3 linked regions of the Homo sapiens genome follow. The protein of the gene in region 3 purifies or fractionates together with the protein of the main gene of each other region. This does not show direct contact. Each region holds a gene or a part of one and is shown on either strand. Other genes may lie near its edges.

Region 1 (6,409 bases), on a different chromosome or scaffold from region 3:
TTTTCAAACATCTGAAGGAAAGAAAACAATAATGTCTGTCTCCCCTAAAGCTTTTCCTGAGATGCTCCAGCTATAGCCCAACCCTACTTAGGTGGATAGGAGTTCCTATCACAGGGCTTTCCAACAGAGATCCTTAGCCAGAATGAGATAAACATGTCCACTAAGACAAGGCAGTACTACTTTTCTTTCCTTTTCCTTGCTTCCAAAAACCCCCAAAGCACCAACCCCCTCCTTTCCTCTGGGATTTATAACATTAACCATGCTTTTCTCAAAAATCTATTTCAATCTTTAACATTTCTTTCCTAACAAAAAAACACTAACTCACAGAGACCTCCACCTCTGTTCCTGTTTTTATAGAACCAAAATAATTACTTAATAATTATATATTGATCACATATTAAGATATTTTGGATATAATGGATTAAATAATTACAAACCATTTTACTTGTTTCTTTTTATTTTTAATGTGACTACCAAGAAGTTTAAAATTCACACATGGCTAACATTTTCCTTTGTGTTTATTTTGTTGTTAAGTACAGGGGTACATGTGCAGGTTTGTTACATAGGTAAACTTGTGTCATGAGGGTTTGTTGTACAGATAATTTCATCACCAAGGTATTAAGCCTAGTACTCATTAGTTATTTTTCCTGATCCTCTCCCTCCTCCCACCCTCCAATAGACCCCAGAATGTGTTGTTCCCATGTCCATGTGTTCTCACCATTTAGCTCTCACTTATAAGAGAACATGCAGTGTTTGGTTTTCTGTTCTTGCATTAGTTTGCTAAGGATAATGGCCTCCAGCTCCACCCATGTCTTTTCAGAGGACATGATCTTATTCTTTTTTACGGCTGCATAGTATTCCATGGTGTACATATACCACATTGTCTTTATCCAGTCTATCACTGATGAACATTTAGGTTGATTTCATGTCTTCGCTATTGTGAATAGTGCAGCAATGAACATACACGTGAGTATGTGTTTATAATAGAACAATTTATATTCCTTCGGGTATATACCTAGTAATGGGATTACTGGGTCAAATATCTTTAAATATTTGAGGACTCTCTACACTCTCTTCCACAATGGTTGGACCAATTTACACTCCCACTAACAGCGTATAAGCATTCCTTTTTCTCTACAACCTCACTAGCATCTGTAATTTTTTGTCCTGATTTCAATTCTTTTCTGAACATCCATTTTTAACTAATTTACAACATATAGTAGTTTCACTAGAGTGAAATGAACATACTGATTTAAATTACTAACTTCCTGGACTTTTTTTAATTCAGAATTTTTGAAAATGAGAGTATCAGCTCTTGTTCACTGATTTTGATCTCTATTGACTAGTGGCTGAAATTTCCTCTTAAAACTAATGCTTCTAAAGTCAAGAAAACATAGTTTCCATTTTCAAAATTAGCTTCAACAAGATCATGTGAAGCAAAATGTGAAGGAAATAATTTAAAGAAAAATCAGATGAAACATTAAACTATACATCCAGTGGCGGTACTCTGCCTAAAGGAGTTTGATGTGGCAGGAACATCCTTCAGGCCTCAGAAGATGGGGAGCGGGAGGGAAGGCATTGACAAACAAGAACTAGATGAAACAGAAGTTATAGCTGATCAAGAATTTATCTTTATTCTGATTATGATTCTTCAAAGAGCATTAGTTGTTTAAATTTAATTTAAGCCATGCTTAAATCGAATACATACAAAATATGATTACTTATATTCCTTTTGACCAAAGAGCTGAAAATTTTGTGTTCCAGTTCATCTTACTCATGTTATTCTGATGCGAAACACTCTAAATGCAAATTGTTTTGAAAGTAAATAGGCCAAGTGGCCTACCCTGCCCTTTTTATAGTATAAATTCTGTGATACTGCCTTCTTTTCAGTATATGCTCCTCTGTGGGCCTTTGGCTTACACGGAGACCATCAGCTACAACGCATGGCAGTCAGCTTCAGAGTCCTCGCTCCAGTGTGCATCTCGTTTCTCAGCCACAAGTTTGATGAATTGAGAGTGACTGGCATAAAGCTTCAGTTTATCATTGATGTCCACCCATTTCACTTTTCCAGCATCATCTCCAGCTTCTAGCATAAGATTATCCATTATCTCACCTGGTTGCCAAAGAAAAACCATCACCAAGAAAAACTCATTTCTGTTTTAGCATATCTATGTCGTCAAGTATTCTTATTTAAAATAATCTTATATCATCATTGTACTAGCCGGCCAAGTGAATTAAAAACTAGACCATTCCATCCCTGGTCAGCAGAATGAATAAAAGAAAAAAAACTAGAGTATTCCAAAATGTCCAAATTTTAACCAAGTCCCTAAATTTTAGATAAACACAAAGAGTTTTCTCTAAAAAGATTATCCTTAAAAACGAGATTATATTACATGAATATGAAACCTTACATCAAAATCAGTCCAAGAGGGATGAGAGATTTAAATGTAAAAAAATAAACAAAGCTGAGGCGGGTAGATCACCTGAGGTCAGGAGTTCGAGACCAGCCTGGCCAACATGGTGAAACCCCATCTCTACTAAAAATACAAAAATTAGCCAGGAGTGGTGGCACATGCCTGCAGTCCCAGCTTACTTGGGAGGCTGAGGCAAGAGAATTGTCTGAATCCATGAGGTGGAGGTTGCAGTGAGCCAAGATCACACCACTGCACTCCAGCCTGGCAACAGGGTGAGACTCCACCTCAAAAAAAAAAAAAAAAAATTTAAATTATCAAAAAAATAAAAAATAAGTGCTCCCAATCACTGCTGGGAATATAAATGGAATATTTCTGTAGGAAATTTGGCAATGTTTATCAAGAGCTTTTAAAAAGTAAGTTTTCTTTGACAAGCACTCATTCTGTAAATATCAGAGTGCATCTTGTGTGCCAGACTGTACTAGGCACTGAAGATACAATAAGCAATCCAGTAATTCCTCTTTGAAGAATTTATTCTGATGAAATAGAGACAAGCCTATTAAAGTATTCAAGGCAACATTACTTAAATATTTTATTTTATTTTATTTATTTTTAGATGGAGTCTCGCTGTTGTTGACCAGGCTGAAGTGCAGTGGCACAATCACGGCTCACTGCAACCTCCGCGTCCTGAGTACAAGCGATTCTCCTGCCTCAGCCCCCCGAGTACCTGGGATTACAGGCATCTGCCACCACGCCCAGCTAATTTTTTTGTATTCTTAGTAGAGACCACACTGCCATACCAAAAACTGGAGAGACAGGCAAATACAGAGAATCACAACTGACCAGGGAGAGAAGCCTACCGCTGGAGTCAGCACCTGGTAGGAACACTTAAAGGGTAACTAACTGCTGAAAGCTGACCTTTGGACTAGCTTGAAAGATAAAATCTCCTAGGGGGTCAGCCATACCAGTATGAAGAGGGGGCCTACATTTTAGTGAGCTTTACCTCCAAGAAAGCCACCAGGTGAAGACTGGAGAAAAATCCTCTCTCCTTTCTAACATGGAGAGGGGAAAGGTAACCAATTTCAAATACACCCAGATCACTCTGCCCTCAAGGAAAACTATTTTACCAAGCCCTAAGCAACCTGAGGGAAAGGAAATACCCAACTCCAGCCCCCGCTGGATTTCCTGTCTTTCCTAAGGATTGGGGAGGAAGGAGGGAAGCTGAGAATAACATATGAAGGGTCACAGCCCAGGGCCACAGGCTCACTAAAAGACTGACATCTAACCATATATTCTCCTATGATTCCCCTTCCTCTAGAATTTACCACCATATCTATCAATAGGACTCCTGTTTAATAAAAGGGGAAGACAGCTGAAAGAAGGGCATGCTTCAGACCTCATTTAATAAGTCTCCAGGGAAACCCAAAACTAGAGGAAATTTTAGCCTCTGACACATACAATGACAGCAAACAAAAAACACAGCCTAACTCCTAGCCAGATAAACATAAAACCTCACGCTAAAGAACTATTTGCCTTAGTTCCCTTACAAGTTATATCATGGTCAATTTTCAAAAAAGCACTACAGCCAGGCGCAGTGGCTCATGACTGTAATCCCAGCACTTTGGGAGGCCAAGGTGGGTGGATTACCTGAAGTAAGGAGTTTGAGACCAGCCTGGCCAACATGGTGAAACCCCATCTCTACTAAAAATACAAAAATTAGCCAGGCATGGTGGTGCATGCCTGTAGTACCAGCTACTTGAGAGTCTGAGGCAGGAGAATCGCCTGAACCCGAGAGGCAGAGGTTGCAGTGAGCCATTATCATGCCACTGCACTCCAGCGTGGGTGACAGAGCAAGACTCCATCTCGGGGTTAAAAAAAAAAAAAAAGAAAAAAGAAAAAAAAGCACTAAAAGCACGCTAAAAGGCAAAAAACATAGCCTAAAGAAACAAAGCAAATATTAAAACCGAACTCAAATATGGCAGAGATTTTGGAATTATCAAAACAAAATTTTTTAAGTTTAAAGAGAGAAAAAGATAGGGTAAAAACAGTGAACAATCCATAAACTCTATAATCAACTTCTGGAGGATCAGTCATTGTTTTTAACTCCAAAACTTTAAAGTAGTTAACAAATTTATCAGTACTAAAGTTGTACAGACCTGCTTCTAATTTACATCTGCATATTTCTTCTAAGTTTTCATACTAGGATAAACTCTTCTAATACACCTTAGTGGAAATACAGGAATAGAAAATGGTCCCAGGAGTTTCCTCCAAGTTCAACAAGCAAAAGCACAGGATATGGAAATGACAGATCTAGTTCTAGCCCATTTTGTAAGTGAAAAAACTGAGTCCAAGAGGACAAATGATTTGTACAAGGTTACACAGCTCAGAAAGAACTATGAGTGGAACATTCATTTCATTTCTCTAGCATGGTGCCCCCACTTTTATGCTACAAATAAAAACAAATCAAATTTAGCAATAAAATATGTTTCAAGGGAGCCATTCAATGTGTACATTAAGACCAAATTAATTTTTAAGACAGCAGATTTTTCCTTTCTCCTTCTGTAATAACAGGTTTGACCCTCCTCATAAAATTTTAAATTCCATACACCAGAAACAGCATTCATTTAAAATTTTTTCAGTACTTGGAATTTTTTGTTATTGCTTTGTGTATTAACAATCCAAGATTATTATAAAAATATTTGAAATAGTAAGATATAAATCCCATTTCCTTTATCATTGCCATACTTCCTACCCAAATCCCAGTTGCTTTTGTTTTGCAAAAAAAGGGAACTATACTCAATAAATAATCTGACATCTTTAAAGCATATCATTTTAGCCCATAATTTCATCCTTAATTTCAAATGTTACCAATGGATTAAAGAAAATTTAGTCACTGGTGATAAAAGTTTTGAAGATTTCTTCTATGTATTCCTTTAATACCAACAATTTTGCTTTCATATAACTACAGTCCTACAATCAACAGTTAATTGGTTTAAGATGCTAAATAGTCCAGATTTAATCATGCCTTAGTGGGCTAATGGCTTAAATTGATCCTTTAATCCCAGCCAGTTTAATAAATATAAAGTTACCTGTTTCGTCATGGTAGTTCACAGCTTCTGTCTCCATCCATGCATTATCAGTGTTTCGAGGATCATCAACATATCCCTTATATATCTATTTTCAAAAGAAGACAAATTTTTTAAAAGTCCAAGGTGTAGTGAGTACAGCAGAGCATGTTACCTTCACTAGCATCAGAAATGTAAATATCCTGTTGCCCAACAACATGAACATACTTAATGCTACTGAGCTGTACCTTCAACAGTTTAGATGGTAAATTTGACATTATGTGTTTCTATCAAAATTTTTTTAAAGAAATGTAAATAGCCGGGCGCGGTGGCTCACGCCTGTAATCGCAGCACTTTGGGAGGCTGAGGCGGGTGGATCACCTGAGGTCAGGAGTTCGAGACCAGCCTGACCAACAAGGTGAAACCCTGTCTCTACTAAAAATACAAAAAAAATTAGCCATGCATGGTGGTAGGTGCCTGTAGTCCCGGCTACTCGGGAGGCTAAGACAGGAGAAATTACTTGAACCCAGGAGGTGGAGGTAGCAGTGAGCCAAGATCGCGCCACTGCACTCCAGCCTGGGCAACACAGCGAGACTCTGTCTCAAAAAAAAAAAAAAAGAAAGAAAGAAAGAAAAAAAGAAAGAAATGTAAATATCATAAAACTTTTAATGTAGTACTTCATGTGCTTGTTTCAAATTTCCCAAAGAACAATATTCTCTTTTGAGGCAGCTTTAAAAATCATGAAACCCTCAGGCCAGGCGTGGTGGCTCATGCCTGTAATACCAGCACTTTGGGAGGCGGAGGTGGGCGGATCATGAGGTCAAGAGATCAAGACCATCCTGGCCAACATGGTGAAACCTCGTCTCTACTAAAAACACAAAAATTAGCTGGGCATGGTGGAGAACACCTGTAGTCCCAGCTACTCAGGAGGCT
Region 2 (7,304 bases), on a different chromosome or scaffold from region 3:
TGGAGGTCTACCCTTCGCGCACGCAGCTGCCGGGCCTCCTGCCTCAGCCCGTGCTGGCCGGCGTGGTGGGCGGAGTCTGCTTTCTGGGAGTGGCCGTCCTTGTGAGCATCCTGGCCGGCTGCCTCCTGAACCGGCGCAGGGCTGCCCGCCGCCGCCGCAAGCGCCTCCGCCAAGGTAAGTCCCTCCACCCTCAGCCCTGCTACTGCGCACTTGGGCCTAGCCTCCTTAAGCCCCTCCTACCTGGGGGAAAAGCCCTCGCTCCTGTGTGATCCAGGTGCATTCTCTTAGTCCTGCATCTGGTCCTGCCTACGCTTTTCCCAGCCGGATGGGGTTGGGCGCCTGGTGTTGGGTGAGAGAGTCTCCGCCTAGAGGGCCTTGATTTTTGCCTGTGTCACCTACTATTCTCATGCCCTTCCAGATCCACCTCTTATCTTCTCTCCGACCGGGAAGTCAGCTGCACCGTAAGTGCCTCCACCTCCTTGGCTTTCTTCTGCCTTTCCATTGTACGTGCCAGTATCTTCTGCTTCCTTTTTTGCATCTTTACCAGGGGGATGTTGGGTGTTGGGGAGGAACAAAAGTGGGAGAGGGTAAGAAGGGGTGTGCAGTGGCCCCAGCCTGAGGCCGTTCCAGTATGGCCTGTGCCTTCCCTCCACCCCTCCACCTTGTTGGTCCTTTCCTCGCTTGTTCTTCCTAGCTCTGCTCTGTTGTTCACCAAACCTCTCAAGGCCTGACGCTGGCTCCTGGGAGGGGGACCTGCCCCTACCACAGACCCTGATCTCCTGTCCTTCCCCAGCTCTGCTCTGGGCTCAGGCAGTCCTGACAGCGTGGCGAAGCTGAAGCTCCAGGGATCCCCAGTCCCCAGCCTGCGCCAGAGTCTGCTCTGGGGGGATCCTGCCGGAACTCCCAGCCCCCACCCGGATCCTCCATCTAGCCGGGGACCCTTACCTCTGGAGCCCATTTGCCGGGGCCCAGACGGGCGCTTTGTGATGGGGCCCACTGTGGCGGCCCCCCAGGAAAGGTCAGGCCGGGAGCAGGCAGAACCTCGGACTCCAGCCCAGCGTCTGGCCCGGTCCTTTGACTGTAGCAGCAGCAGCCCCAGTGGGGCACCCCAGCCCCTCTGCATTGAAGACATCAGCCCTGTGGCACCCCCTCCAGCAGCCCCACCCAGTCCCTTGCCAGGTCCTGGACCCCTGCTCCAGTACCTGAGCCTGCCCTTCTTCCGAGAGATGAATGTGGATGGGGACTGGCCCCCGCTTGAGGAGCCCAGCCCTGCTGCACCCCCAGATTACATGGATACCCGGCGCTGTCCCACCTCATCTTTCCTTCGTTCTCCAGAAACCCCTCCTGTATCCCCCAGGGAATCACTTCCTGGGGCTGTGGTAGGGGCTGGGGCCACTGCAGAGCCCCCTTACACAGCCCTGGCTGACTGGACACTGAGGGAGCGGCTGCTGCCAGGCCTTCTCCCTGCTGCCCCTCGAGGCAGCCTCACCAGCCAGAGCAGTGGGCGAGGCAGCGCTTCGTTCCTGCGGCCCCCCTCCACAGCCCCCTCTGCAGGAGGCAGCTACCTCAGCCCTGCTCCAGGAGACACCAGCAGCTGGGCCAGTGGCCCTGAGAGATGGCCCCGAAGGGAGCATGTGGTGACAGTCAGCAAGAGGTGAGAGCAGTCCCTGCCCATCCCTGCCTCCGCCTCAGTCCCACCCCAGACCTCTCACCCCTCTCCCAATACCCTGCACCTTCTCTGCTCCACTCCCACCCTGGGAACGGGAAAACTTGTCCCTTTTAGAAGCTTTTGCTGAGGTCCAGGGATTTTTCAGGGGAAACCCATGACCTAACGTGAGTTTGCGGTCGCTGAATTCAGACTTTTCTGAACAGCCTCTATTCCTCCACCCACACCATATGTTTGTCTTTTTTTTTTTTTTTACAGGAGGAACACATCTGTGGACGAGAACTATGAGTGGGACTCAGAATTCCCTGGGGACATGGAATTGCTGGAGACTTTGCACCTGGGCTTGGCCAGCTCCCGGCTCAGACCTGAAGCTGAGCCAGAGCTAGGTGTGTGAGCCCCCCGGAAAGGCAGGCATCTCGGCCATACTGTCCCACATCCCCCCGCCACCTTAGGACCCATCTATTCCCAGTCAGGCCCTGCCTCCCAGGCTCCTCTGCTCTAGACTGTGCCTTGCCCCCTTGGGCCATCTGTACTGGAAGGGCCTAGCGAGCTTCACATCTGAGCTCTTCACTCAGTGAACCTCAGGGCTTCTTCTCATTGTCCTGCCCGCCTCTTGCAGGTGTGAAGACTCCAGAGGAGGGCTGCCTCCTGAACACTGCCCATGTTACTGGCCCTGAGGCCCGCTGTGCTGCCCTTCGGGAGGAATTCCTGGCCTTCCGCCGCCGCCGAGATGCTACTAGGGCTCGGCTACCAGCCTATCGACAGCCAGTCCCCCACCCCGAACAGGCCACTCTGCTGTGAACATCCCTGATGTGAGGCTGTGAAAAGGCATATGGACCTGCAAAGGAGGCCCCCAACCAGACAGACCTAGTTTCAAACGAGGGCACTGCCCCTGCCTGCCCCTTTGGTGCCCAGGCACAGACCCTGATAGTGGGTTTGGGTCACCTTGGTATGGAATGTATGTGCTGACCCCCTAGGTGAGTCTGGGGATTGGAACAGGGATCTTAGGTCTGCCTCTCTCTCTCTCTCTCTCTCTCTCTCTCTCTCTGTGTGTGTGTGTGTGTGTGTGAAGTTTTTTACAGGTGAATAAACAAAGTTTGAAAGATGTTTCTGTGTGTTATCTGTCTTTGAGAGAGTGCCAGGAAAATCCCTGGACCCTTAAAGAAGAGGAGAATCTTCTTGAATAAATGGAGGTGCATTCAGCATTCATTCAAGAACATTTATTGAGTGCTTACGGAGGCCAGCTACTAAAGGCCAGCCACTGAAGTAGATACTGAGAAAATACAAAGCTCTGGAAGCACGCCTTTGCCCTTGAGGAGTTCTTTCTAGTCAGTGAGGCGGACAAAGAAATAGTTACCGTATGATAAGTTCCGTGATAAAGCTATGTGTTGGTTATTGTAGCACAAAGGAAGATGTTGCATTCAAGGCCACCTTTAGTGAACGCTAATATCGTGTGCTGGGACAAATGCCACATATTGGGGGGGAGTCCTCAGGACCCTCACAGATAGATGGTGGTAATAATAGTATTCACTATGTGCCAGGCACTGCTCTAAGCCCTATAGGTGGACTGTTTAGTTCTCTACAATTCTATGAATTAGGTAGTACTATTAGCTCTGTTCTATAGACCAGGGAACTCAAGCATAGAATGCACAACAGTCACACAGCAGGTAAAGGGTAGAGCAGGTGGGGAGCCAGTCAAGGAAGGGAAACTGTCCTAGGCAGAGGAATAGCCTTTGTAAAGGCACAGAAGAGTGAGAATGCTTGACAATCAGTGGGACTGGAATATAGGGCTGTGTAGGACTCGGGGAGGGAACAGAGAATAATAGAAAGGTTGGACAGGACTGGATATTGACATCCTGGAATCTCAGGTTCAAGGGAGGACTCTATCATGTGTGCAGAACTCCACCCCGGGGGACTCTATTCAACTGAAGCCTGAAAGGATGGGGGGCTCTTTCTCCACCCCTGAACTGTGCTGTCCTCCACCCTCAGAGACAAAAGAACCCCAGCCAGCCTCCTCGCGCTGAGGTCTCCCCCTCTGATCCCTCCAGGATTTAGGAAGAGATACCAGGTCATAGAAAAGGAGATGAAAGGCAGGGAGAAGACAGGTCTGAGCCCTGGGTCCCAACACCGAAAACACCCCTAGGGCCCTGGGCAGAGTGACCTCACTGTTAGTCCCTGCCCAGGCTTGAAGTAAGAGGTGAGCAAGATCACGTGGGGGTGCTGTCCCGGCCTGCAAGTCCCAGTCCTGTCACACACTAGTCAGTTGGGGTCGGGGGAAGGCCTTCCTGTGCCTCCTTTTACCTTGCCAGCCTCTAAACTAGGAGGCTTCTTCCTACATAAACACGCCCACAGTGTTTAGCTAACTTTCTAGGCAGAAAGTTTCCTACTGGGGCACAAGTCTACGGGCTCTCGGTGGAGGCTGAGGTACTCACGGGTGGAGACCACTGCAGCCGCCTTTGTAGATTCAGACTCCCCGAACCTTTAACCCTTGCTCTGGTCTACTGTCCCTCTGTCTCAAGCAGTCCTCCCTCCTTCTGCGCTGCGGCGCCTTTAAACCTTCTTGGCCCTTGCCCCGCCCCGGGTCCGCCCCGTCTGAGGCGGGACCCTCCTGAAAATCCCCGGCTGGGCAGGGCGCACCACTTGCAGCTGCAGCCCTTGCCTTGAGTCAGTGCGCCGCTCTCCAGCCCGCTTGAACGGTGAGCAGGTCGGGGGTACGGGGGTCGGGGACATGTGCGTGCTGTGTAGAAAGCAAGAAGCCAGCGCTTTGAACTTGCTCCAGCGAGCTCGGGGATCAAGGGCTGGTACCAGGCAAGGGTCCGGTGACTACTTTACCCCGCCCCGTGCTGTCAGGTCCTGTCCCCAAGCCCTGACCCGACATTGTTGGACGATGAGGTCAGGCGAGGTTAGCCCATGCATAGACAGGGCGTCCGTCTGGAGCAGGGACTCAGGGACTGAGCCCCACCCGCGGGCTCCATCGCTGAGTCCTCACTGGGGCGAGGGGAAAAAAGGGCGTCGGACTTTAGCTGGCTGGCCCCGAGTGACCCCGGGTCGTGGCGCCGGCCCTGGGCCAGCTCGTGCTCCTGGGCTTTCCCGCGCGACCCTTCACTTCCTGGTTCCAGGAGCACGTGTGAGCACTGCGTGCCCTCTGAGTCCCCGAGGCCGCCCTTTTCATTCCTGTTCCTGCTAGCTTGCTATTCTGGGGACTTGAGGTCACGGGCTGGGGCTAGGGGGCTCTGCATGGGTCGCACGGTGACCTTCTGTGAAGCTCCAGTCATCTCTATGACGGTCCCCTGACCTCGGGGGTCTGGGTGCTGCAGCCCTGACTGCGCCCCGGGGTGCCCTGTGTGAGGTTGTGGGGGTGGTGGTGGCTGCTTTTACCCTGCCCGAGCGCCGCTGCCCCCACCGGGTGCCCCCTGCTGCTGGGAAAGCCGGTGGTGGCCGCGGGCGGACGGGCGGGCTGCCCAGACCACTGCGTCACCCCAGCGGCGGGAGGGCGGTGGGTGACTCATCTGTTGTAACGGCCCAGGGTGTGGTCGTGGGGGTGGGGGGCGGCGGCTGGGAGGCCGGACCTGCAGGACCGGAGGTGGACTGCCGCCTCCCCCCGCGCCCTGTGCCTCCTGGGGCTACCTGAAGCCGGTGTCCTGGGAGATCTGTGAGCAGTTGGTATCTGTGGGGCAGAGAGAAACGGGGTGAGAGTGGGGATGGAGTGTGGGATTCGATGTAGAAGACCTGCGGCTGGGACGGGGCTCCCCCAGTGTTCTCATTGACTTCAAAGCACCAGACAGCAATGGCTCTCTATCTCTAGCCCCCTCCCAGTTTCTCCTCCCCACTACAAGGGGCAGACCTACAACTGCAGAGGAGGCCAAGGCAGGGCGGGCCCAGTAGGGCCCTACCATTCCAGAACCAACAAATAGGTTTTGTCCAACCGCAACTCCCTCCCTCACCCCAAGGCCTCTGCCCCTGTCCCCCACCCCGGGATTGGCCCCTAATCCTTTCTTCATTCCATCCCTTCTCCCTCCAGAATTTTCAGCTGTGGGTTCTCTAGCTCAGAACACTTTCCCTTCCCAGGGGATTTCTTCTCCTGAACAACTACTTCCTGAGTCCTCTTCTTCACCCCAACACGGGTCATTTCCTATCTTCCCCCACACGCTGTCCATCCCCACTATAGCTGTCTCCTGGAATAATCTCTTGCACCTGGCTACACCCGAGCACTGCTGAGACGATCCCACTTCTGCTCCCGTGCTCACAGCCTGCTCACCACAACGTCTGTGTTGACAGGGTGTTTCTGCCCGGAGCCCCCACCCAGCCTCCAACACTGTTTGGTACACAGAAGCCATGGCAACGGCCCCCACCTCATCCCCTCCTCCCACGCAAGCTTTGGAGCTTCCTGTTTGTGTAGCCTCAGCTTTCTCTTCTGCTCCTGACTCTCGGTGGTGAGGGGCTGCCCTACGGTGGTTCCCTTAATTGTGGGCCGCCCCCCATCCTTGCTGCTGGCTGTGGCACCTCGCTCTGTGGGCTGGTGCCCTCACTGTGCTGCTCTTTGAGAACACTCCCTGTCCCAAATCTGAGTTGGGAAGTTCTCCTGTGTTCCATCTGCACGGTGGATGGAGAGTCCCTTTGTCTTCCCAATTAAACACCCTAGCCAAGAACCCTGAAGTCCTCCCTGCCCCCACCCATGTCCGCCTTTTCTTTGGCTTTGGCTTTGGTGAGGTAAGCTTCCAGCCCAGGGTCTGGGTGGGGCCGAGTGCCTTGCGTGGCCCCTCCCCGTTTCCCGCCTATTGTAACTCCAGGGTGAGGGTGAGGGTTGTTCTCACAGCTGCAGTAGCGCTAGGGTTTAGGTTGCTCCCTGCCAGTCCATCCCCCAGGTTGTTCAGCTGTCACCTTCCTTTGGGGTCCCCAGCTCTGGGGGTCCCCCACACCTGTCTTCCAGCTGGGCATATCTCTTCTCACCCTGGTAGGCAACTTGCTTACTGTTTTCTTTATGTTTGAGGGAAGGCAGGGGCAGGTCCCCTGGGTGTCCCTAGGGTGGGCCTTCCCAGCTCCAGCAGCCGCAGCCCATCAGCTTCTGCCTGCCCGTGGGGGTGGGGAAGAGAAACAGCTGCTGACCAGGCCTGGCCTGGTTGGAACTGCCCCTTCTCAGGACCCCGCCCTATGGCTCTGGCACCTCAGAGCTTGAGGGCAATGGCCCCAGAGTGGAGCAGATACACTGCAGCTGGAGGCCGTGACCCTGCCAGCTGTGTCCAGGCCCCAGCGTTGGGCGGTGGAGGGGGTTCCTCAGCATCCACTTTCCACCCAGTGGTGGGTCTGGGAGGCCAAGTTTGTCCTGCCTTGGGGGGTTGGGGGGCACTGGAAGTGTCTGGCTTCAGGCCTTTCTCTCTGCTCTTAACCCCAGTGTCTAGGTTAATCATTCTCCTGCCCTTTCTTTACCTGTGCCATGGTGATCCCCGAGCCTCAGGCCACTTGGTCCCTGGAAACAGCCCTGAGCACAGCCACTCCCAGGAGAGAGGTCTGGAACTGGGCTGCGGAAAGGGGGCTTACTGGTGGTAGTAGCTCTTAGCCCCTTCCTCTTCCTACCTGTCTTCCAGCCATTCCCCTGTGCATCAGAGGTTAGAGGTTTCTATGGTGGAGTGGCCTCTGG
Region 3 (7,026 bases):
GCCAGCATCTTTTGGATGCAGGTATTCGATAAATTATATGAGATATTCAACACTTTATAAATATTTTATGTTTGATGGTTTTATGTTTGATGATTTTGCCTAATTGCAGGCTAATGGAAGTTTTCTGAGCACATTTAAAGCAGGCTAGGCTAAGCTATGATGCTCTGTAGGTTGGGTTTATTAAATGCATTTTCCACTTATGATATTTTCAGCTTACGGTGGGTTTATTGGATGTAACCCCATTGTAAGTGCAAAAGCATTTGTACTTAAAATATACTGGAAATAGACTGGATTAACTGCTAAACAGATGACAATCATTTGAAAACAAAACACAAATTGTATGTTTCTGAAATTTTAAGAAGGCGAATTGGTTACAGGGTTTGCCAAAGGGGGTGATTGAGAATATTATCTGGCTATTTAAACCACCAAACTAATTTGCCCTTTATAAATAACCTCCATAGTTTTTTTTCAATGCATAATATGCATTTTAGATTGCTTATATCTACCTACTGTGTTCTGTCTACTACTAAACTAATTATCTGAAGAATATGGACTGCATCTTACTTTCCAGCTCCCACACTGTTCAGCAGAAAAATATAAAAGTACCAACACTGATTCAAGAAGAAATATAAAACCAAAAAACCAATTACCATTAAAGAAATCAAACTAGTAATGAAAAATCTACCCCTGTTAAAGACACCAGGCTCAAATGTTTTAAAGAAACCGCTAGTCCCTACCAAATGGTTTCAGAGATTAGAAAAACAGGTTAGTTACCCAACTCATTTTATGAGGTCAGAATATCCTTGAAACCAAAAGCCAATAATGATACTATAAGAGTAGAAAATTTATAGGCCAATCTCATTTATGAACACACATACAAAAATCATTCATTAGCTAATTCTACAGTACATATAAAAATCCATAGAGAACAAGTAGGTTTTATCTTAGGAATGCTAGGATGGTTAAACATTAAAAAAAAAAAAATTTGTCAATAGCACCATATTCACCAGATTAAGAGGAAAAAATTCTATGAACATTTCAATAGATGTAACAGATGCAGAAAAACCATTCAATAAAATTCAACATTTATGACTTTTTTAAAAATTAGCAAACTAGTAATAGAAGAGAACTTTATAATGAAAAAAAGGTTTCTGAAAAACCTACAGCAAACATCATGCTTACTGATAAAATGTTAAAATGCATTCCCATGAAAGACAGGAACTATGTCTTCTGTCAGTAAAAACTTCAGGCTTAGCATGAATGAAATATTTCAAGGCCAAGAGACAGACTCCAAGGCCCAAATGTCAGCTGTCCCCAAAAGAAGGTAAAATACATCTGGGCTTCCCTCAAGTGTCTGTACTGTTCATTGCAAACTTTTTCTGGTGGGAAATATTTAGTATGTAATACTAAGTGGACACAGGAAAAAAAGCAGGACACAGAATGATATCTATGCTCTGATTAGAGCTATATTAATTTTTTTTAAATATATGGACAAGGACTGCAAACAAGCATGGAAAACTGGATACATAAAAACTTGTGGAAACGTGGGTACAATTTCCTTTTTCCTTGTTATTTTAACATTAGCAGAATATTTTAAAAGCAAGCCCATGACAAAGTCTGTTTAGGTGTTTTGATTTATATCTTAAGCAGGACAGCTTTCTGCTTTATAACAGCAGTCTGCTGTAAACAAAAATGTTTAGGGGAATTTTCCTAATTACCTTAAAGTGACTTGGAAAGTGGGAATATAAAGAAAAGAATAGGAGGAAAAGGAGGGTAGATATAGTTATCGTTTACTCTGATGATAGCTAGGAGAAATAATTACCTCCTCTAGCTTGGTAAATTCTTTACGAAATTCTTCTTTTAGGCCAGCATAGTCTTCTTTATTTTGGCTTCTAATAAAGCTTCCTACCAAGGATGGCACCTAGACAGAGAATAATTTCTTAGTTTATCAGTTTATGGCTAACTGTATCGGCCCCCTCACATAAAAATATGGTAGAACCCTTACAGTCCTGGTGTCAAGGTGTTCTAGAAACACCAAGGGTGCATCAAGTTCCTGCGCTCACAGAGGTAATGGACTGGTCTTAGGAACAGTTTTGTGGCCTAAAATGCTGGCTTGGTCAGGATTTTATAAATTACAAATAACAGAAGCTACCCTGGCACGTTTAAGAAACAACTTTCTTTCTTTTTTGAAATGGAGTCATGCTCTATCACCCAGGCTGGAATGCAGTGGCACGATCTCAGCTCACTGCAACCTCCACTGCCCGGGCTCAAGCAATTCTCCTGTCTCCGCCTCCTTAGTAGCTGAGATTATGGGCGTGCGCCACCACGCCAGGCTAATTTTTGTATTTTTAGTAGAGATGGGGATTCACCATATTGGCCAGGCTGGTCTGAAAACTCCTGACCTCAGGTGATCCATCTGCCTCAGCCTCCCAAAGTGCTGGGATTACAGGCTTGAGCCACCACGCCCGGCCAACACAACTTTCTTTAAAGGAGACTGAGTGGCTCATAGAATTATTGGGAGGCGGAACAAACAGGCTTGGAATTAAGACAGAACATCCCAAATTCATGCTGAGAAATGGCCTAATGGGAAGCACTCACTGCTGCCAGTCCAAGCTGAGCACCAGATGCTTCAGTTTGTGAGGCTGCCAGAAAGTAGAGTCTGAGATAACTGCTAACACCACTGGCACTGATGCCATTTCTACTCTGGAATTTTATCTTGTAACCCACACTGCTGAAACCCAGAAGCTCTGCCGCTGCTCTCACCAGGAAAACCAGTGGAGAGCTGAATATCTTAAGCAGATATCCCACCAAGCCTGTTTCCTTACCTTGCTCGTTTCTGATTTGAACTCTATGTGTGTGTCTGACAGGAAGAGCCTAGGTCACAAAACTTGGCCCCAACTGCAAAGAGCTAGGGAAGAAAATTTTTCTGATTTCTTTGTTGGGGAGGACACCAGGAGACTGTTCAAAAGGGACCGACTACCTAAAGACTTGATGGGTGTAGCATCAGATGCTTTAATGCTCGTGATGGTGTTTATGTGTTTTAATACTTTGGTCTTTGGTATCATTTTATTGCAAGACGCAGAAGTCCACTCATCCTAGTTTAAGTAAACAGGCACTTGTAAAAATATAGAATCCCATGAAATCCCATCCACATCAGTTCAGCCTGCCTTCACTGGGACTGAAGGCTTTCAGGCAGCCCTTTCATCCACATTTCCACCTGGGTCTGCCTGGTCTTTCGTCTGTTTTTCCTCACATTTCTGCTCCATATTACTTTGCATACTTCAGTCCCTTTGCAATGTTTTTAATTCTTGCTCCTCTAAAAATTTATTTCTTAAGTGGCTTTGGTTTTTCTAGCCTCTAATTAACATTATTTGAGCCCCAACGCTTAGTTGTCTTTACTGTCCTAACCTTTACTGTCTTAGTTCTGTGTCTCATTTCCAAGTTCCCAGGAGAGAAGATAACTGGCCCAGGTGTGTGGGGTGGGGTACATTTCTGTTCTGATGGGCTGTGGCCAGGAGAGCAGGGTCATATGTACATAAAGCCACCTCTCCTTTAAAACCCAAGCAGGGAAGTAAAGGTGGGCATCTTCAGCATTACTTTTAAATCTCATTTTCTTTCTAGATAGTACAATGAATCTCTTGTGACTACTTTTTAAAGTAGTAGCTTTATGCATGAAAGTAAAGCTTCATGTCTAAAAGCTTTACTTTTAAAGCTCATTTTCTCTGACGTGTCCTACAAGTCCTTTCACGATCCAGTTCCTGTTTACCTCTCCAAAGTTACCCCTTTTATCTCTTCTCCTGACACTTTATATTCCAGCCATACTAAAAAAAGTTTTCCAGAACTGGCACCAGACCAAAGAGATTTTTCTTTAAGAACCACTTAGGCTTATTTTTTTTGGTTGGTATTGATGACTTCGTGTCTTGAAGCTGCATGCCTTTAACTTGTTACTACTTTGTAAAACTCTCCCACATCGTTCTTGAAAATGTCATGTTCCCTTTACATTATCTTTCACAGCAGCCGCCTCTACTATTCTTTCACCCTCATCTTACTAAGCAGATGACTCACTCTTCCTGTCCCATTGGCTTCCCTTTATAATGTCTCCTAAAACAGAATGTTTTCCCTATAACTCTCTCTTAGGGCATTTCTTTAACCATCTTTTTCTCTAAAGATAATCCTTTATATACTGACCGTACTACCAAGGTGACAATGTTATAGGCATATAACCAGACATGCTATTCTTGGTGTCTAAACACACATCTTTTAGTCATTTCTTTGTTAATACTAATTGTTTGAACTAATCCACAGTGTTGATGCTAAGTAAGGTACAAACAGTTCTTCTACAGGATTGCTATTTATTCAGTCATCTGAGTTATTGCCAACACAAAGTAGATGCTCACTGCTTGATGCTATGGCTATAAGGACAAGAATTAAGTAGTTCCCATGTGTCAGACTCTGTTCTGGGTGTTTTATATTAACTGATTTTTATCTTATGAGGTGGGAACAATTACTATATCCATTTTACCAATGATGAACGGAGAGGCAAAGTAATAAGTAACTTGCTCAGAGTCACAAGAAAGTAGCAGAGCCAGTCATAAAACTAGGCAGTGAACTAACAGTGATCAAAACACAGCCCTCACCCTCAAGGAGCTCACAGCCCCAGTGCAGTACACAGGCAAGAAGGCAGGCAAAAGTTCACACGGATGGGAACTCAGAAGCTAGAGCACTAACCAGCCTGCCAAGCTCCTGAAAAGGCAGCAGTGTCGGAGCAGACATGTGAAAAATGACGTGGAGATAACCAGGCACAGTGAGAAGTGGGAAGAATCTGACAGCAAGAATTGAAAGAGAAAGGGGCGAATTTGGGAATTCTGAGAAAAGTTTAGTATGGCTGGCATATATAAAGTGTCAGGAGACGAGTGAAAAGGGATAATTTTGGAGGTAAACAGGAACTGGATCGTGAAAGGACTTGCAGGACACTCAGAGCTGACAAGCATATTCCTGTTTTGTTTTTCTCTCCCAAATCACTGAACCATAAATGGCAGCACTGATTTCGCTTTAAAAAACAGGTTTTTCAAATAGGAGCTGAAATTTCTTATGCACAAACCTTAGAAAACAACTCTAAGATCATCTTCTGGCAAGCTTTCTCATAGGGGTCATCCGGCAACAGCTTCTTCCCTGGGTATGCTTCATCCAGGTACTCACAGGTGATGGCAGACTCGTAGATCAGCTGACCCTGACTGTTTTCCAGAACTGGCACCAGACCAAAGGGATTTTTCTTAAAGAACCACTCAGGCTTATTTTTCAGGTTGATATTGATGACTTCATGCCTGAAAGACACATAGGAGACTATGAAGAGAAGGAAACAACTTTTGTGCTTTTGGATAAATTCTCACTGGCTTTGCCATCCACTTAGCTGATCAGACCCCAAATTTAGGAGTCTGCCTAGATTCCTTCCATTCTAGTTTTTGATTTTATGAATCTGACTACTTTTGATACACCTTTTAAGAACAATCATGCAGTATTTGTCTTTCTGTGTCTGGCTTATTTTACTTAGCATAATGTCCGCAATGTCCATCCATGTTGTCACATATTGCAGAATTTCCTTCCTTTTTAGGTGGAATAGCATTAACACATTTTCTTTATCCATTCATCTGCTGATGGACATTGACATTATGCTGTTGTGAACAGTGCTGCAGTCTACGTGAGAGTGCTAATATCTCTTTGAGAACTTGATTTCATTTAATTTGGATATATACCCAGTAGTGAGATTGCTGAATCACATGGTAGTTCTAGTTTTAATTTTTTGAAGAACATCTATACTGTTTTCCATAGCAGCTGTACCATTTTACATTCCCGCCAACAGTGTGCAAAGGTTCTGATTTCTACACATCCTTGCTAACACTTGTCTTTTTTCATTATAGTCATCTTGACAAGTGTGAGGTTATTATGTGATTTTGATTTGCATTTTCCTGATGATTAGTGATAAGAACTTTTTCATATATGTGTTGCCCATTTTTATATCCTCTTTGAAGAAATGTCTATTTTTTTAATTTTTAATTTTTTTTGACACTCTGTCTCCCAGACTGGAGTACAGTGGCTTGATCGCAGCTCACTGCAGCCTCGACCTCCTGGGCTAAAGCGATCCTCCTACCTCCCGAGTAGTTGGGACCACAGGCGTGCACCATCACACCCAGCTAATTTCTTTGTAGAGACAGGATTCTGCCATGTTGCCAAGGCTGGTCTTGAACTCCTGGGCTCAAGTGAACTGTCTGCCTCGGGGTTATAGGCGTGAGCTACCATGCCCAGCCTGAGAAGTGTCTATGTAAGATCTTAGCCCATGTTAAAATCAGGTTTTTTTGTTGTTGAGTTGTAGAGATTCCTTATGTATTTTGGAGATTAACCCCTTACCAGGTATGTGGTTTGCAAGTACTTTCTCCTATTCCATAGGTTGCCTTTTTGCTCTGTTAATCGTTTCCTTTGCTGTGTGGAAGCTTGTTTGCTGTAGTCTCATGTGTTTATTTTTGGTCTTGTTGCCTGGTCTTTGGTGTCATGTCCAGGAAATCATTGCCAAGGCCAGTGTCATGAAGCTTTTCCCCTATGTTTTCTTTTACACGTTGGCGGTTTTTATATTCCTTGAATTTGCCAAATGTGTTTCCACCTTAGAGTCTTTGCACTTGATGGTCCTCTGCCTCCTCTGCCTGCCTTTTCCCAGGTCTTCCCAGGTCAAACACACATCCCCAGGCCCTCCCTGACCATAGCTCTGAAGTTGCTGAGCAGCTTCTATTACATGATTATCATGTTTTACTTTCTTCATTGAACTGATAATATGTATCTGAAATTACTTTGCTCACTTATTTACAAGTTTGTTATCTTCCTAGAATGTAAGCTTCACGAAAGGTGGGATCTTGTGTATCTGTTCATAGTAATAAACAAACATGTAAATGAGCAAAATGCTATATAGATATAAATGCTCTGAAGAAAATAAAAAGTTTCAAATAAGGACTCAGTAAATATTTTTGTTTTGAAATA

The links.
Region 1: the proteins of GSTO1 (region 3) and NUDT9 fractionate together in Homo sapiens (co-fractionation; 2 studies listed by BioGRID). This does not show direct contact.
Region 2: the proteins of GSTO1 (region 3) and TAGLN2 fractionate together in Homo sapiens (co-fractionation; 2 studies listed by BioGRID). This does not show direct contact.

What each region holds. Positions count from the first base shown.
Region 1 is NC_000004.12:87,453,547-87,459,955, reverse strand, and holds the end of NUDT9 (ADP-ribose pyrophosphatase, mitochondrial isoform a precursor), read right to left. Parts: intron 5,586-6,409; coding exon 5,501-5,585; intron 2,114-5,500; coding exon 1,935-2,113; 3' UTR 501-1,934; downstream 1-500.
Region 2 is NC_000001.11:159,922,508-159,929,811, reverse strand, and holds the start of TAGLN2 (transgelin-2), read left to right. Parts: upstream 1-4,304; 5' UTR 4,305-4,362; exon of another isoform or gene 4,363-5,333; intron 5,334-5,860; exon of another isoform or gene 5,861-5,934; intron 5,935-6,077; exon of another isoform or gene 6,078-6,341; coding exon of another isoform or gene 6,342-6,376; intron 6,377-7,304. Other genes in the region: IGSF9 (protein turtle homolog A isoform a precursor), read left to right, coding at 1-174, 419-461, 794-1,654, 1,925-2,052, 2,286-2,467.
Region 3 is NC_000010.11:104,257,874-104,264,899, reverse strand, and holds part of GSTO1 (glutathione S-transferase omega-1), read right to left. Parts: intron 5,325-7,026; coding exon 5,102-5,324; intron 1,922-5,101; coding exon 1,823-1,921; intron 1-1,822. UniProt on the Homo sapiens protein: Exhibits glutathione-dependent thiol transferase and dehydroascorbate reductase activities. Has S-(phenacyl)glutathione reductase activity. Also has glutathione S-transferase activity.